2 separate regions of the Homo sapiens genome follow, and region 2 is linked to region 1. The links come from fine-mapping of genetic effects on gene expression. Tissue or cell type: activated CD8 T cells. Region 1 holds a variant in brackets; the other region holds the start of a gene. All regions are shown on one strand. Distances are from middle to middle.

Evidence for each region. PIP is the estimated chance that this variant, and not a neighbour inherited with it, causes the effect.
Region 2: it holds the start of ACSS1, and the variant in region 1 is fine-mapped to the expression of ACSS1 in activated CD8 T cells (Schmiedel 2018, PIP 0.95).

The regions. Positions count from the first base shown.
Region 1 is chr20:25,116,109-25,118,790 of GRCh38, reverse strand. No RefSeq gene overlaps it. Among named protein-coding and RNA genes, the nearest start is that of VSX1, 35 kb to the right of the region's middle. The variant C/G (reference allele first, on the strand shown) is at 1,501.
Region 2 is chr20:25,056,792-25,059,473 of GRCh38, reverse strand. ACSS1 (acyl-CoA synthetase short chain family member 1) reads left to right here and starts at 1,335. Exons shown (of 14, transcript NM_032501.4): 1 at 1,335-1,705. The coding sequence starts at 1,372. RefSeq lists enhancers at 854-1,459, 2,110-2,239 and silencers at 1,080-1,609, 1,740-2,009.

The DNA.
Region 1 (2,682 bases):
TGTGTGCATGTGAGAGTGTGTGCGCACATGTGACTGTGTGTGCATGTGAGAGTCTGTGTGTGCACATGAGAGTCTGTGTGCATGTGAGAGTGTGTGTGCATGAGAGTCTGTGTGTGCACGTGAGAGTGTGTGTGCATGTGAGAGTGTGTGTATGCATGTGAGAGTGTGTGTGCATGTGAGAGTGTGTGTGCATGTGAGTGTGTGTGCGCATGTGAGTCTGTGTGTGCATGTGACTGTGTGTGCATGTGAGTGTGTGTGCATGTGAGAGTCTGTGTGTGCATGTGAGAGTCTGTGTGTGCATGTGACTGTGTGTGCATGTGAGAGTGTGTGTGTGCATGTGAGAGTGTGTGTGCATGTGAGTGTGTGTGCGTGAGAGTGTATGTGTGCATGAGAGTCTGTATGAGTGCATGTGAGGATGTGCACGTGAGTGTGGTGGGGGCACTTGCTGACCTGTGGGTTTTCCTGCAGGTCATTAGGCACCAGGCTAGTGACCTAGGCCTGAGTGATCTCACATTTTTCTGTCATAATCACTCCTTTCTGTCTGGTGCCTTAGTCCTGCCCCCACTGCTGGATGTCTCCACCTTGGAAATGTATCTAAGTCATTTCTCCAGAGAAGACACTCCCACTTCCCGACGGCTGGGGGAGGATGGTTCTGGGGCCACTGGAGCCCTGACAGTGTCTTCTAGGCATCTGCTTGTTTCCCCTGCAGACTTTCCCTCTTAGCTCCAGCCTCATCCTGCTTTCCCTGGTACTTGGGGAGTCCAATTCCTGAGCCTTTCTGGGTTTCTGTGGCACACGATGACCCACATTTTAGTGGTGTCCCCTCCTCAGGAACTTGGGCCTTTTCTGTTCACGCTCTTTCCATCTTTGTTGACCTTCCTTGTCTACTGTTTCCTTTGCCTTTTTCTCCCCTCCCGTTTTCTTTGTCTCTGTGCATTTGTATACTTTTCCCTTTTGCTTTTATTTTGGTAGTACTTGGGGAAGCAATGAAAACAAAAACTGCTGCTCAATTTGCCACGTTTAACCAGTGCCCCATAATTATTAAGGGTCCTGCCGTAACCAATCAAGAGAATTTATCATCATTTATTTACCTGTAAAAGGATTTTCAAGTTGTTCTCAGTGTTTTGTTATGATAGCAAGTGCTTCAATAAATCTCCATCTAAATAGAGCTTTTTATTTCTGATAAATTGTATTCTTGGGCTGAATTCCCAGGAGGAGACTATGACTCCAGCAACTTCATGAGCTTTTTTCTTTATTTCTTTCCTTCCTTGTAGCCGCCCCAAGCTGAGGATGTGTTCCTGCCAGCCTTTATTATCACTTAGCAGTGATGGTACTATTTGTCCCCCAGTGTCCTCGGGGATGGGCCGAGGAGGGAGCAGGGCAGGGTTGGCACAAGGGCTCACTGCTGGAGAAGGCCAACAATGTGCAGAAAATGTGGATTTTGTGACAAGCGTGACACAGTGGCTGCAGAAAGAAAGGAACAGGTTGTGTGGGTGAGGA[C/G]GGGCCTCTGCAGTGACATTCAATCACTGGACATTAACAGGGGACATCTGTCACTGCCACTCAGTGAGGAGGCCAGGCTTGCAGCCCGGGATGACAATATGTTCTGGGGCTCATGATCACGTGAAAAATACCACTTTTGCAGAGGGTCCTTCCAGCGTTTGTGACAAATCCTTCTATTTTTATTACAGAAATCCCGGGCAAATCCTTCAGTCAGGGGACTTTCTATTAACACGCAGCTGGTAAGTGAAAAATAAAACAACCAAGAGAAAACCCACACCAGATCCCAAATAATCACATGCTGGCCCTGTGAGCACAGGGCAGCCAGGCAGATGAGAGCACAGCCCTCAGAGGTCCCTGCGACACGCGTTTGAATGGCACAGCAGAGACCATAGCCCCTCCGCCCACCCCTTTCCTGGAGCTGCGCTTCCCTTCCCTGTCTTGTGCTTCCTCCTTTTCTCTCAAGAAGGAGATTTTATCACATACTGGCTGCTCAGTCAGCACCTGGGGCACCCTGGAAAGACCCACCCCTTGTCTTGTCCTCCACCTGTGGCAGCTGCAAGCCGGTGGGCCAGGAGAATATTTTAAATGCAGGATAGCTTTTCCCTGCCTCCCTTTTTGCTTTTCTGAGGTTTTTCATTGGTTAACATGTTTGGATATTTTCTCCAAAATAGCAGTAACTATTTTTCCATGAAGTTCATCTTGTTTCTAAGGGCAGGTTTATTGAGGTATAATTGAAAAGCAATAAAGTTCACCCTTTTAAATGTACAGTTCTACGTGTTACAGCCATATAAATGCCAGTCTTGGAGGTTGACTAAGCCAAATGACCACTTGGCTTAGGTGGTCTCCTGGAAGCAGATCCTAAGGCAGGGATTTGGTGCTTGTGTGTTATTGAGGAGAAGGGAGTGAGCAAAGCTGGATAGGAGAGTGGAAGGAACCGAGCAAGGATGTGAGGGATGAATTGTCCACAGCAAGTCCTGCCTTGAGGAAGGGGCACAGCGGAGGACCCATCGGGTCAGCTGAGGGTGAGTGGAGGAAGCTGGGCCTCCAGGCATTTTGGAGCCAGGTGGTTCTGCCAGCCTCGGGCAGTTCTCCAGGGAAGGATGCCCAGTGAGCCTGTAGCTGCCAAGTCTCACAGCATCAGGGGTGTGTGTGTGTGTGTGTGTGTGTGTGTGTGTGTGTGTG
Region 2 (2,682 bases), 59 kb after region 1:
AGCGCTAGCACTGTGCAGGGCATGTGTTATGCTAGTAGATGTCACTGATTCTCCAGCTCTAGGTACACTCCTGTCTTCTCTGGCAGACAGCAGCATTCCCCAGCAGGGGCTGGTGGCTAGCCCACGCAGAGGCTCCTCCAATGGCAGGCTCCTCCCCTCTGCAAGCCCTACAGCTCAAGGGAAAGAAACTTTCCCATCACAGAGAACTCAATAAACCAGTTTTCCAAAATCTCTCTTCCCTGTGTTTACCCGTTTGTTATGAATTTACTTCTTGGGTGTCAGAATATTTAAGAACTCGGTGGAGACCAGTTTTATACGTTTCCTTCTGTCCTTCCTGGCTCCACAGCTGCAAAAACATCATCCCCACTACTGAGCTTACTATGGGGCCACGCAAGGGTAGACGCTTGACAGACATTGTCCAATGTATTCCTTACTGCAGCTGCCCACCCCCGCCGTCCCCGCCCCCCAGGGAGACATTACTTCCGTCTTCCCCAAAAGGAAAACGAGGCACCGAGAAGTTAAGGAACTTGCTCAAGGTCACAGAGTTTGAACTCAGGCTACAGATGCTGCAGCAACTGGAGAAAGTCCTCATCGCCCCATATCACCCACCACCGACCCCCAGCAGGACGTGACCCCCGCCAGGACGGAGGCCGGCAGCTGGGGGGCTGGAGCATGGGACCCAGAACACGGACTCAGGCTTGCGCAGCCTCCTGGCTTCTAGGCGGGAGCCTAGAAAGGCGCCAGCCCCTTTCGCGTGCTGCTGAGACTCCAGGGGTGGGGTTCACTCTCAGGGGCGCACAAAGGCATGAAAACCTTGGCTTCAGCCTCTGAGATGCGGAACTGACCGACCTATTGTCTTGGGACCCACCAGTGCGCTTGGGTGCACCAGCCCCCTTAACGTTGGTGCCGGCTCCCTCCCGGCTCCTCCCCATCCCAGAGGGTCCCCTCGCCCCAGGCCCTGAGCCTGCGTCCTGGGGTCCTGGGCCGCACGTGCCTCTGGCAGCTCGAAGAAGCTGTCGGGGCTTGCAGGAGAGCGTGCAAACTGAAACCAAAACAGGCCGACTCGAGGAACATCCGGGTGGGACCGCAGACTCACCGGAGCGCAGCGCCTGGGCCAGGGCCTGGGACCCTGCTCCGCCCCGCGCTCCCCTGCACCCCTTCCCCACGCTGCTCCCCTCTTCCTAAGCGGCCCCCCCTCTCCCGGGCAGCAGAAGAAGGGGTGGGACCCGGGCGGGCTCCGGGAGGGGGCCCTGGAGGAATGGATGGTGGCGGAAGGGCGGAGCAGGGGCGGGGCCCGCGGAGACTCCACGGGGCGCCCCGGGCGTGAGGCACCCACTCTGGGAGCACAGAGAGCTCAGGTAGCCTGCCTAGATGGCGGCGCGCACCCTGGGCCGCGGCGTCGGGAGGCTGCTGGGCAGCCTGCGAGGGCTCTCGGGGCAGCCCGCGCGGCCGCCGTGCGGGGTGAGCGCGCCGCGCAGGGCGGCCTCGGGACCCTCGGGCAGCGCTCCCGCAGTTGCAGCAGCAGCAGCACAGCCAGGCTCGTATCCCGCGCTGAGTGCACAGGCAGCCCGGGAGCCGGCCGCCTTCTGGGGGCCTCTGGCGCGGGACACTCTCGTGTGGGACACCCCCTACCACACCGTCTGGGACTGCGACTTCAGCACTGGCAAGATCGGCTGGTTCCTGGGAGGCCAGTTAAATGTCTCTGGTGAGTGGGCTTCGGGAGACCCAGGACGCCCCCAACTCTTGGGTCCCGAGGGGACTCGGAGCCTCTCGCCAGCGGCAGCCGTCCCCGGGCAGCGCGGATCGCAGCCCTGCAGGGGCCCCTCCTCCGGTATTCCGTCCGCCCCGCCCGCTCTAAGCAGTGGCTCCACGTCACCCCGTCCCTCATCCCATCGGGCCCCAGATCCACGTGCCCAGCTCGGGCCGGCGCCCGCGGGGACCCGGCGGCCGCTTGGGACGCCCCGCTGCTGGCCTTGCTCGGCGCGGCTCCTCGCTCGGCGGACTCCAGAGTTGCGTTACCGGGTGCATAGCGCCGCTGAGCAAGAGCCGGCGGGGAGCCGCGGGCTACACCCGAGCGCCCCGGAGTCGGGACTTTCCCGTTCCCATACCGGGGTGGAGGGAAAAACAAAGCGGTGGCGGTTGTCACTGCGGGCTGCGGTGCCCGGGGATCAGCCTGGGGACAAGCCCTGCCCACGTAAACAAACAGAGCTGTGGCGGGCGACCTGGGGAGGAGGAAACTCGGCGTGGCAGCTGGAACCAGTTATTTCTTCGCTGCGGGCCTGGGGCCTGGGGCCTGTGGACGGGAAGGAAGTAACGGCGGCCTCCCCGTTCTCGTTCTCGGCCTCAGAGAACTGCACCCCAGCGACCTGGGGCCTGCTTTGGACCCGCGGGGTCTGACGTCGGCCCCAAACAGTTGACTGGTGGTCAGTTGTTTGGAACTTGCTGAGCAGAGGCCCTGCTGCTCTGCTAAGATTTGGGGCTGGGGGTCGTACACAGCACCCTCGCCCCCACCTAAGGCGCTGACTGGGCACCGAGGGGGAGGCCCTGAACTGCAGGCAGGGCTGGCCACGCAGGGTGGGTGCCAAGTGCGAGGTGGGCTCCGGATGCAGGGTGGGCCTGGGTGTGGGGCCTGCGGGGAGGGGCTGGCAGACACGGTGTTGATCAGAGGGATGCAGACCAGAA